Homo sapiens: one gene and its partner. The protein of the gene in region 2 purifies or fractionates together with the protein of the main gene of each other region. This does not show direct contact. Each region holds a gene or a part of one and is shown on either strand. Other genes may lie near its edges.

Region 1 (3,600 bases), on a different chromosome or scaffold from region 2:
AAGGAACACAGTGGCTTCTGGAATATTCCTCTCTCCCTCTCCAGAAGCAGAGGAGGAAAAGTACATTTTAATCCATTCATCCTAACGAGACAGCACAGCATCTTCTGACCACCAGAGGGCACTGTGTAAACAGTAGGCTTTTCTCAGCTAAAAACGCTTCACCAGGAAATCCCTTATTGCACATGGCATTCATATTCTTAGGGTTCGTTTTGTAGGACTTCTATTTCAAAGTACTAATTCTGTGGACTCAGATTTTGTCTGGAACCCACTTAAAAATGCCCCTCCCTGTATTTTGTCTCAGCTGCCACCACTATGTACCAATCACCTAGACTACTTGGGAGCTACCTATAACTTCTCCCTCATAATCAACCATTAAGTGTTGCCAATTTTCCCATTAAATATTTCTCAAATCTGCCCATCTACTCCATCCCTACCTTTCCTGCTCTTGCAAGGCCTCTGTTATCACTCCTGAGTTATTAAAATAGGCTCAACCAGTCTCTCAAATCCTTCACTCTCAGGTAATCTTTTTCTTCCCAGAGCAATGCTGTTTTGAAGATGATTCATGAAGAAGAAAAATCATATCACACTATTCTACCATGGTTCCCCTCACATATCTTCAGACTAAAGTATAAAATCATTATTGAGGCATACAAAGCCCTCCATGCCCACCCATCTAGTCTTACATGTTTAGTTACTGCCTGCTTCAAACTTCATGTTCAAGCAACATAAAACTGCTCATCACCACCTTCACCCTCCTCCACACACATCCAGTATACTTCATAAATTTCTTACTTCCCCTGCAGTTTTACTCATGCCGATTGGTTCTTTGGGTCTGAACCTCCCAGATATCATTTAAAAATCAGTTTATCACCTCCTGCAGAAAGCCTCTGTAACACCTTCCTCTCCCACTATTTTAGGTTTTGATCTCATTGTGTATTACCTCTTTATTTTGCACTTTTTACACTGTATTTTAATAATCAGAACAGCTACATAAAGTAGGTGTTAAAGCACAAACTAACCAGACTGCCTGGGTTTAAATTCTGGCTCTGCCACTTATTAAGTGTGTGACCTTGAGAAGGTTGCTTAGTCAATTTGTGCTTCAATTCTCTAAGAAGGGATGGTAATCCTTTCTACCTCTGAAGAATTATTGTTAAGTATATCTCTCATGGAGTAAGTGCTAAATAAGAATTGGTTATAATTATGTGTTGGTCTCCCCCATGAGATTGTGAGCAACTTTAAGGCGAGGACTTTGGCTTTTTCATTTCTCTGGAATATTAAGTATTCAGTAAGTGTTACTGAATGAATAACTGGTGAGACAGCTCTATGATGATGGGAGGGATTACCCAGTTTCCTTCTTTGAGCAGATCCTACACTTTTTTTTTTTTTTTTAATTGAGACGGAGTCTCGCTCTGTCACCCAGGCTGGAGTGCAGTGGCACAATCTCGGCTCACTGCAAGCTCCGCCTCCCAGGTTCACGCCATTCTCCTGCCTCAGCCTCCAGAGTAGCTGGGACTACAGGCGCCCACCACCACGCCCGGCCAATTTTTTTTTTTTGTATTTTTAGTAGAGACGGGGTTTCACCATGTTAGCCAGGATGGTCTCAATCTCCTGACCTCGTGATCCGCCTGCCTTGGCCTCCCAAAGTGCTGGGATTACAAGCGTGAGCCACCACACACCCGGCCAGATCCTACACATTTTAAAAAAAATTGTATTGTTTCCAATTTTGTGGCTCCAGTTTTGTTTAATTCAAACCAAAATCCTGAAAACATCACAATCATATAATTGAAATTCAACAAAATGAAACCAATTTTAAAAAATCATAAAATGCATGTTCATTCTAAGAAACTTAACTCCATTTTTAAGCTTTAAGATTCCCCCGATCCCAAATAACCTAACACACCAAAAGCCTTGCCATTTCACACATGCTGTTCCTTTGCTTAGAACCTTTTCAATGTCTAGCTCACTCTGTTTGGGACTTCTTTTTTCTTTTCTTTTTTTTGAGACAGGGTCTGGCTCTGTCATCCAGGCTGGAGTGCAATGGGGCAATTTCGGCTCACTGCAACCTCCGCCCTTCCAGGCTCAAGCGTTCCTCCCACCTCAGTCTCTCGAATAGCTGGGACTACAGGCATGCGGCACCACGCCCAGCTAACTTTTGTATTGTTTGTAGAGACAGGGTTTCGCCATGTTGGCCAGGCTGGTCTCAAACTCCTGAGATCAAACAATCCGCCTGCCTAGGCCTCCCAAGGTGCTGGGATTACAGGTGAGAGACATTGTGCCTGGCCTCTTTGGGAAGTTTTTTCTGATCTTAGGGTGAGGCAGATGCCTCTTCTGTGCTGCCAAAACAGCCTATACATACAACAATATGGTACCAATAATGCATCATCCCAACTGTGATGCTCTGTTACCACACTTAAGGCAGATATTGCAATTATTTGGCTCCCCTGCTTTACTGCAAGCTCCTTGACATCAGGGCAGTATCTCAGTCATTACTGAATGTCTGACATTTAGTTGATACTTGATGAGTTTTTGAATGAATAAATGTTTAAACAGGTAAGTTTTATTTTGCTTATCAATTTTTTGTTTATTTCAATCATGGCAACTTTTATATAGTGGTTGGAAATTAAAATTAAAATTAAAATTTAAAGCATTTTCCCATACATTATACAACTGATCTCACAACCACCCTGAGATAGGTATTTTTATTATCCTCATTTTGCAAATGAAGAAACAGGTTCAGTGGCTGACTTCCCCAAAACTGCTTATCTTGTAAGTAGAAGCTGAGACTCTTGATTCAAAGCCCTAAGTTTCAGTTTGTGTAAACCAGACAACACTCTTCTGAATATGACTATTAGCTGAAGTGCCCCTTTGGAACATTCTAAGCCTCCTAGAGTCACCTTTTTCATGAATCTAAAAGCTCTCATCATTCTCTTACTGCTCCATCTTGCAGGAAGAATGTCCAGTCCCTTCCCTAAATCCCCTTCCATCTGCTAACTCCCCACTGTCCACCAGAGCATGCCTCTTCTAATACTTCAGATTCAAAGTGGGGATGGAACTCATCTCTAAAAACGACTGCATGCATCTCATATAGACAAAAGAAAATCTGGTTAATTCTTTAATCTTCAAATTTTATTTTGAAAACTATTTTAAATTCAAAGACAGAGTAGTATAAAAACCACCCACGTCCCCAACACTCTCAAATAACCAATGTTGTAATTAACTTTCTATGTACTATTTTGGGGCTCTGTTTTTAGATCATCATCAACTTCTTCACAGTTCATTCTTCTTAAATACACATGGCTAAGGAGTGAGACCCTGCCGCTTCCTCCCCAGTATCAGTCTCTTCCATGCCACATCTGAAAACAGCGGTCATTGACCCTTCTTTCGTCCAATTTCCTTTCCATATGTTCAGCATGCAATCTTTGGTGCTGATCAAGAGGAACCCCATCCCATATCAGCACAGGGATATATTGGCAGTGGTCTTCATGGCAAGTATACCCACTCCTTCCTAATTATAAATTATGAAACTCTCTATAAAGGTGAGGGTTTGCTTTTGTTTTCATGTGTTTGGCTGCTGTAAATCAATCCATCAGAGGCTGGGCA
Region 2 (3,019 bases):
CTTCATTGCCATAATTTGGTGCCCCTAGATTCAGTGTGGAGGATGGGGCTCCCAGGCCAAAGGAGCAAAGGGTTGGGGCTCTCATCACTGTTGGCAGGGTTCCCAGCACAAGGGAAGAGAGAAGAGGTCTCCCTAAGACCTGCAGGTCCGCTAAGTAGTGCTAGGAGGGGTCCCCTAACCAGAGAAAGACAGCAGTCCCATCCGGTGGTACTAGTGGGTTCTCTGGTCACAGCATGGACTACAGAGCATATCCTGTTCCTCAGGCTGCCCTCCAGAGAGCCCAGCGGGCTCCTTTGATGGACCAACTCAGGGGAGTACTGGCTATACTGAGAGTAGCCTGGCATTTGGGTGCTAGGGCTGAACTCACACACATACCCATCAGTCTTCTCAAATTACACCTAAAACCCGCCACCTCTTTTATGTCAAACATATCATTTGCACTCTCATTTTTTAAAAATCTCTTTTATAATTCATGGCCTACAGGCTTCAGCTAACTTTGGGTCAGTCAGGTGACCACAGAGAACTGGCCTCATTGTACAGCAGCTTTTGTTTGGAGGGCCTAGGTTCCACAAAGGAGATTTTCTTAGGAGCCTCTGCAAACCAAGACCCCATGAAACATGCCCATAAAATATGCTCCAGGCTTTGACAGATCTGCAACCATAAAAATCAAGAAAGGAATTATAAACTGAAGCAAGACAGATGGGAATTCTTTTTATGATGTTTAATGACACAGATCTTCCCAAAGTAATCCAAACCCCAAAACATCACAAAATTATTCATACTATTATACACTCCAAAAGCAAAATACTTCAACTGCAATCCTTGCCCCAGCATGATTCCTCAAAATTGAGATAACTCCTTGAGAAACAAAAGTAAAAATAATAATAATTTAAGGAATAGAGTTAATAGATGCAAAAGTAAAGGGAAAAAAAGCGTAATTTAGTGTGAAAACCAAAAATGACTTTAAATAAGAATGGGCATTTAAGATCTTATTAAAGAGTTATGCTTAAACCATTTCAAAAAACACTGAATATTGAATGTCATGGTGTATATTTTAACAATAACTGAAATGGGATACCAATTCATTAGTGCTGCTTTCCTTTAGCTGCTTACGTAAGCAGCCCTCTCCTGAGACTTATAGCGTAACCTTAATGTAACACAATATTTTCTTACTTTTGATGACTACTTAGAGGTAACATCAAAACAACAAATTGACAACCATAGTTTCAGAGAGACTGAGAACATATTAGCATATGTAATTTAAGCTTGCTGTTGGCCTTGCCAAGGTGGAATGCTGGTTGTGATACAGGTTGAGTCTCCCTTATCTTCAGTGCTTGGGACTGACCAGAAGTATTTTAAACTTGGGTTTTGGTTTTTGTTTTTGTATTTTGGAATATTTACATAAACACAATGAAGTATCTTCAGGATAGGGGATAGGACCCAAGTCTAAACACGAAATTCATTTACGTTTTATATACACTTTATACAGGTAGCCTGAAGGTAATTTTATACATGATTTTAAATAATTTGGAGCATGAAACAAAGTTTCGAATGCATTTGACTGCACCCTGCCACATGCAGTCAGATGTGGAATTTTTCACTTATGGTGTTATATTGGTGCTCAAAAAGTTTTGGATTTTGGAGCATTTCAGATTTCAGATTTTTAGATTGGGAGGTTCAACTTGGATATACCTTTATTTGGCTGAAATTCTAAGAAGAGGATAAATGAATTTTGTTTTGTTGTTTTTGTTTTTGGAGTTCCTTTTCTGTTTTAATTTTTAATTTCATTTTCTTAATTTACCTAATGAACCAATCCCTATGATTACAGTGAGAAAAGAAAACTTGGCTCTCACTGAATCTTCTAAAAACTGAACAAGTTTTAGGGTAGTGTCTTACTCTATTCAGGCTGCTATAACAAAATGTCATAAACTGGGTAGCTTACAAACTACAGGAATTCATTTCTCACAGTTCTGGAAGCTGGGAAGTCCAAGATCAGAATGTTGGCAGATGCAGAATCTGGTGAGGGCCCTCTTCCTGGGTCAGAGATGGCGCCTTCTCGCTGTCTCCTCGCCAGTGGAAGGGGCAAACGAGCTCCCTTGAGCCTATTTATAGGGCACTAATCTCATTTATGAGGGGTCCACCCTCACAACCTCATCACCTCCCAAAAGGCCCCATTTCCTTAGAGGTTAGGATTTCAACATACAAATGTTGAGGGGACACAAACATTCACACTATAGTAGGGCTGGTAGAGGAAAATGCTATGCTTACACTATGAAGGAGGGAAATAAGTTTCCATTTTCAGGCCCCTCTTCTCTGGGTCTGTATCAATGAAGACAAATGTGCCTCTAGTCTCCCTTTATCCCAGCCCCTTCCTATTCCTGCTCCCTCACACTGTGTAAGCATTTCATAGATGCACCTTCCTAACTAACTTTAAAACCTGGCATTGGCAGTCCTATCTGTAGAACCTATTTACTTAATGTGTAGTTCTTTTGGAGAAATATTTGAGGAAGGTTTTGTTCCTCATCTAAATTTACAAAGAATTGCTGGAACGAAGGAGTAGGAAACAGAAGGAGCAGTTTAAACTACGCTCCAGAGGAGCCAGCCTCCTCTTACAAATTTATCACAGACATTCAACATCTAAAACAAGATCTGAACTACCCAGACGTAATGCTCTCTTTTCCAAGGTTTTTAGTGGACTTCACGTAAATCAAGCCTAACACTAAGAAATAAACAAACAACAACAAAAACGGATCTACCGAAAAGAGAAAGTCAGGTTGATAGTCTTTCCTGGAGGATTTATCAGGTTATTCCTGTGAATAGCAACTTCCTCTAGCTCATATATAATTAATTTGAGAGAGAGAGACAGAGAGAGCCAGAGAGAGCCAGAGAGAGAGAGAGGGGAAGTGTTCAGATAAGCACCTGCCACCCAACTACAGCGCTTTCTCTTTCATGTTCAAAACAAACATGCAAAAACACAAATTTTCCAGCTTGACAAGAAAATGTTAGCCCCCAAACAGCA

What was found. Proteins that work in one complex are often made in the same cells at the same time.
Region 1: the proteins of SPATA6L (region 2) and ZBTB1 purify together in Homo sapiens (affinity purification with mass spectrometry; 2 studies listed by BioGRID and IntAct, with this or other methods). This does not show direct contact.

Annotation. Positions count from the first base shown.
Region 1 is NC_000014.9:64,507,770-64,511,369, reverse strand, and holds part of ZBTB1 (zinc finger and BTB domain-containing protein 1), read right to left. Parts: intron 122-3,600; exon of another isoform or gene 1-121.
Region 2 is NC_000009.12:4,597,610-4,600,628, forward strand, and holds the end of SPATA6L (spermatogenesis associated 6-like protein), read right to left. Parts: 3' UTR 707-3,019; downstream 1-706.